Linked DNA regions of Homo sapiens: region 1 is linked to region 2. The links come from fine-mapping of genetic effects on gene expression. A gene starts in region 2. The other region holds a variant in brackets. All regions are shown on one strand. Distances are from middle to middle.

Region 1 (2,897 bases), 28 kb after region 2:
ATGCAGCAAGACCCTGTCTCAAAAAAAAAACCAAAATGCTCTTTGTTCTCTGAGGAAGGGGCTGCCCAGCAGAAGGTGGTGGGAGGGCATGAGGCTTTGGCAGCCCTGACAGTGCATGGGTGGAGTGCCCACCTGTGGGCTGGGGTGCAGGTCTGGGAGGCCGGCACTGTCCCCCTCGGTGGCAGGTGTGTGAAGTGAGGCATCCAGTGGGGGTCCGGGGCCGCCTCCCCGCAGCCTGTCCTTGTGTTTTGCTTCTCACATGTGATTCCTGGGAGCAGGTGCCCTGGGCTCCCAGAGAGGCTGCAGGACACACACCAGCCCCGGCGTGTCCACTGCACTGTGTCTTCCCTCTGGTCACTACAACAGATCTTCATAGGCCGTGTGGCCTCACTCTGCCCACTCCTCATGATTCTGGAGGCTGGAAGTCCAGGATCGAGGTGCCGGCCAGTTCCATTCCTGGTCCAGGCCCCCTCCCTGGCCGCTACGTCTTCTCAGGGCGGAAGGGGCTTGCGAGCTCCCAGGGCCCCCCTTACAAAGGCACTAATCCCACCCGTGAGCCTCCATCCTCACAACCTCACCGGCTCCCACAGGCACCCCCTCCTAACACCATGGCCTTGCTGGTGAGGATTCCCACACAGACGTCGGGGGGCGCACTCAGCCCACCCTGCATTACACGCTGGGACACATCCGGCTCATCAGTCTCCATCCCGGTCTTGGGATCTTCAAGGCAGGAGCCTCCGGCCTTGACTGCAGTTTCCTCGGTGCCAAAGCAAGACCCCGGTACAGGAGGCAGCCAATAAATGGGCACAGAACAGGTGAAAGAGGGAGGGAGGGCCAGCGGATTGGTGCTCTGTGCACCTCAGTGGGCAGGGCTGGCTTGCTCTGGCTGTGCTAACTGTATACACCTCCTTGTCCACCCAGGCTGAGCCACAGTCCACATGGCTGTGATGGAGCTGAAGCCCCTGCTGAGGGGCAGCTGGCGTCCGGCCACGCCCACCCCACATTGTTCTGGCCCCCCCCACCCCATCCCGGGGCTTGCCCGAGGAGCATGGCTGAAACTACAGAACGTCCCTAGCACTTCAGGGAAACAGATGTAAAATATCCGTGGGTTTTGGCCAAGCTCCACCAAGAAAGGAGAAGGTCCAGGGAGTTATGAGACCCCCAGGGCGTCGGTCACCCAGGTCCTGCCCACTGGGCTAACAGCTCAC[T/C]GGCCTCCCACAGCAACACCCCCAGGGTCAACATTCCACCACCTCGGTCTCCACAAATGAGGTGTCTTCCATTTCTGCTAACTAAGCAAAGTCAGCGACTGGATTACAAGTTCCCAGGCCCAGGGCCTTGGCCACGGCAAGGCTGCTGGGCTCACACTGTGCTGAGGAGGCCACGGCTGCCCCAGCCACACATGGGCCCCCGGCTTGCCCTCCGTGCGCTCCTCCTGCCTCCTCCGACCGCTGCTCTTTCCCCGAGTATCAGGGCTGGGCCAGGCTGTTCTCGAAGTGAGGTCTGCAGTTAATTCGGATTGTGAGACGAGCCTGGTCCCAGACAGTCCTGAGGGAGCATCCAGGGCCGCAAGCCTCACTGCACGGCCTCCCACCACTCCCCAGGGCCTGTTCCTGGCTACGGGGGAGGGGCACAGGCAGCCTGCGGAGGAAAGAGCAGGCAAGAGAGATCTGGGGGAGCCAGGCGTCCCCCCCATATCTGGCCCCCTCCTGCCTCACACTAAACGATGGCCAGGGCGGGACTCTGGGCACGCAGGGACCTCCGGCGAGTACCAACAGGCCCGGGGGCTGGTGTCTGTGACGCTCTAGGACGGCAGCGTGCGCCCCTCACAGGGTAATTATAGTACAGATCACTCGGTCCGGCACAGGCAGACACTTTGTCATTCCCCCTTTGCCACTGTGGACCCTTCAGGCCTCTGCACAGAGGCCGCCCCCGCAGGGAAGCCACCCCGGACCCCGAGATGGGGCCGGGCCCCTGTGGTTCCGCTCTAACAGGCGCCTGTCGCAGCTCTCACACCCTGGGTGGCTGTGGTGTCTTCTGTCCTCCCCATTTGGGCTGTATTCCCCGCACAGTCTCCACGTGCCACCTAAACCTCTGCTGAGTGTTTCCTCCCACAGATCACTGGCAAATCTCTTCAAAACCAGCGGCCTCTGACCCGCTACAAGCTGAAGAGGACAGGGTGTTTCATTCCAGCCTTGCAGTGTCCTCTGGACGAAACCGCATTTGGCACCCAGAGCTGCCCCAGCCCTGGGCCCTGGGCCCCCACCCCACCCCACCCCCACCCTGGCCCCCGGCAATCTTCCCTCCTCGGGGCCTGGGCTCCTTCCCTTCCTCCTCTCCTCTCCTGAGCCTGCCCATGTCACAGGTTCTGTGGCCAAACGGCCTGAGGGAGGCAAGGAGGGGGTGCTGTCCAGGTTCAAGGCGCCCCTCCAAATATGCCTCGTCCAGCTGTGAAGCTCCCAGACATGTCAGCCCTGGGAACATAAACCTCGCACCAGAGTCACGCACTCACCCCATAAGGCGGCTCTCGTGCATGAACAATTGTGCCGTAGGTCAGCGCTGGGGAGGTCTGGTTGTGCTCAGTTTGAGGAAGCCACGAGTGTTTCTGGAGATGCATTTCTCCGTGGCGCTGGGACTGCCCTCCAAAGGTCCACGTCTGTGAGAGAAGGAGCCGGACCACGACTGAGGGGCAGACGCTCCTTCCCGCCCACTCACAGGCGCTGCGAGTCAGTAAGTACGTGGACTTCCACAGCCTCAGCGTCCTTGCTTTTCAAATGGGTTGATCCTAAACACCTTCAGAGGCCCTGAGCCAAGAGGAAGAAGCTAATGAACATGAAGATAGTAACCCCAGAGCAGAGCTGTTAATTGATGGGACGTCTTTGAGTTTTAGTCACTGACTA
Region 2 (2,897 bases):
CTCTACGTTTGCTGTGGAGAGAAAAGAGACCGCCACTGCTGTCTTGGGCACACATGTGTGGCCTCGAGGGTCTGGGAAGGGTCTGGATCTGAGCGGAGGGAGGGAGGGAGGGAGCCAGTGTCAGTCCAGGGTCCGGGGGAGGTGAGGCCTAAGCCTCCTAAATCTTCTCAACCCACCGGGCCGGGCCTTAGGGCGGCTGGAGTGCGAATTTCCTAAACCCACCGGGCCAGGCCTTAAGGCGGCTGGAGTGCGAATTTCCTAAGATGAACAACGGCCCGTCCGGAGGTCCAGACCCCTTACTAGAGGAAGGTCCCAGAGCATCCCAGACTCCATGGCAGGAAACTGATGGAGCTCACGGCTGAGGACAGAATTCCACAGCCCAGGCCCGTGGGAACTGCCTCTCCTGACCTGCAGCGCCCAAAGGTCTGGGTGGTCCCAGGGCCAGGCAGGATCCTGGGGTCCCTTCCCCACCTAACACTGTGCCAAAGAGCTCGAAGGCGTTGCTCATCTCTGCTGAGCGGCCTCAGGGGTTCCAGGCCCTGCGGGAGATGTCCCCACCCCTCGTGCTGATGCACCCGGCTGCTGTCCACGCAAGCCAGGACCCCCTTCCTGGCCTTCCAGCTGCTGCAGGCAGGAAGGGATTTGCTGGCCCTGGACAAGGAAGGAAGTGTCCTCAGTTTCCAGCCCCTAAAGGGAGCCAGGGTCCCTCCTGGCAGAACCTGTCCAGGAACGGCAGCTGTGCTGCTTCCTGAGGTCGATAACAGATGCCACAGGAGGTGTGTGGGGCAGGGTGCCCACCCAGGCTGCCTTCCTCCCGCCCTCCTCGTCCTGCCCTGCTGCTGCTCCATCTTCCCCAGCAGCCCTGGCTCTGGCATCTGTGCCCATGGGGTTTGCATAGCCCTCTCCACATTATAGAAGAAGGAGCAGGCACCCTGAGGAGATAGGGGTTGTCAGGTGGAGGAGTTGGGTCCTGTCTCCCCCAGCCTGGTTCTCACGGGGCCCACACCGAGGCTGGCTGCTGAGCTACCCTGCATGGGAGTGCTGCATGGCGGGTGCCCAGCCTGAGGTTGTTTATTTGCATTCCTGGCGCCCTCCACACACCCAGCTATTTGCAGCTCTGACCCTTGTCCTGGCTTGGCCATGCTGGATTCCCAGCCCAGGCTTCCCTCTCAATTCCCTTCCCAGTGAGAAGCTCGGCAAGGGCGGGTCCCGGAAAGCACAGCTGTGATCTGGGAGGTGCTGAGCACCCACCTGCGACCCATGGCGGGGGAGGGCCGAGTAACGACAGCATGGCGGTGCCCCCGAGAGGGAGGGGCATAGACCCCGCCCGGACAAACCCTGACACGTTCCCTCCTTCAGGGGCGCGATGTATGGAACCCAGTCCTGAGAGGCCTGCATGCAGTCAGCAGGAGCCGACCCTGGGAATGGACGCGATGGCCTCGGAACACAGGGATGTCCTCGTGCTGCTGCCCAGCCGGGAGCAACTGCGGCTGGCCGTGGGGGTGAGCAGGGCCCTGGGTGGCCGTGGGGGTAAACAGAGCTGTGGGGGTGAGCAGGGCTCCGGGTGGCCGTGGGGGTGAGCAGGGCCCTGGGTGGCCGTGGGGGTGAGCAGGGCCCTGGATGGCCTTGGGAGTAAACAGAGCCATGGGGGTGAGGAGGGCCCTGGGTGGCCATAGGGGTGAGCAGGGCTGTGGGGGTGAGCAGAGCCATGGGGGTGAGCAGGGCCCTGGGTGGCCGTGGGGGTGAGCAAGGCTGTGGGGGTGAGCAGGGCCGTGAGGGTGAGCAGAGCCGTGGGGGTGAGCAGGGCTGTGAGGGTGAGCAGAGCCGTGGGGGTGAGCAGGGCCGTGGGGGTGAGCAGGGGTATGGGGTGAGCAGAGCCTCAGGACACAGCCTGTGTATGGAAAGTCCCTGGACCGCCTCACTCTGCTTAGGCCAGGTGTCTGTGAGGTGTCAAGGGCCAGCCCTTTCACTGGGCCTGTGAAGGAAACATCCCTGATAGACGTTGCTGTGAGAAATAAGTTTATGGTTCAGCACATCCTTCCCGGGAGGGAGCGCTGAGGGAAGAGCGCCAGGAAGCCGGTTTCCAAGGAGCAGCTCCTGTCTTGTGTTCAGACGTCACCATCTCTATGCTTCTCTATTTCCTTTTCTTTTCCCTTTCCCCCATTTTGTCTACCTGTTTTAGTTGAGTTCATGGCGACAGGAGTTGAGATGGTACTTTCATTTTAATGATTAATGTGGATAATGAAAATGTGGCAATTAAAATGAGAGTGGTTTGTTGAAGAACGATGACTTTCTGCATAGCTAATGTATCATTGCTACCTGGAATGGAGTATGACTTGCTAGTAATATCCTGGTTCAAGTCCCCTGGGAATCTGGGAGTCTCTTGTCTGCTTCGGGATAGAGTTCTGTGTTTACGTAAACGCCCACATCTATGTTTGTGGCAAAATCTTCCCCAAGACTCTGTGTCCCCACCCAGCAACGAGAAGCTGGAGTTGAGCTAATGGGGGATGTCCTGTAGTTTCCTGGGGTCCCCAGCAGTGCCTCGGGCTGGGGGAGGGGTCATAAGAGGACCTGTTGTGGGGAAGATGCTGGGGCTTTGGCCCCCTACCCCATAAGAGCTGGAACTTTTAGGTTTCTTGCACGGAACTTCACGGTAAGATTTTAACTGAGGGATCATGCAGCTAGAACATAGTGAACCGCCTGTTCTGAACAGGTGAATCGTGCTCATCTGCTTTTGACGGAGCTCCCTGAAGTGCCTCTGCAACTCCTGTGGCCCCTGCTGGGCCTGGCAAGTTGGCAACCACAGAGCCACTTCCTATCGGGGTGTGCGCACATCTGTGTCTGCAGTTGGACAGGAACCCCTCACTGGGTTGTGCAGTCATCTATGTCTGCAGTTA

Evidence for each region.
Region 1: its variant is fine-mapped to the expression of FRMD1 in lung (TOPMed, PIP above 0.99).

Annotation. Positions count from the first base shown.
Region 1 is chr6:168,049,133-168,052,029 of GRCh38, reverse strand. No RefSeq gene overlaps it. Among named protein-coding and RNA genes, the nearest start is that of FRMD1, 29 kb to the left of the region's middle. The variant T/C (reference allele first, on the strand shown) is at 1,209.
Region 2 is chr6:168,077,487-168,080,383 of GRCh38, reverse strand. It overlaps FRMD1 (FERM domain containing 1), which reads left to right and starts at 1,172. Exons shown (of 11, transcript NM_024919.6): 1 at 1,172-1,502. The coding sequence starts at 1,290. RefSeq lists an enhancer at 1,460-2,181.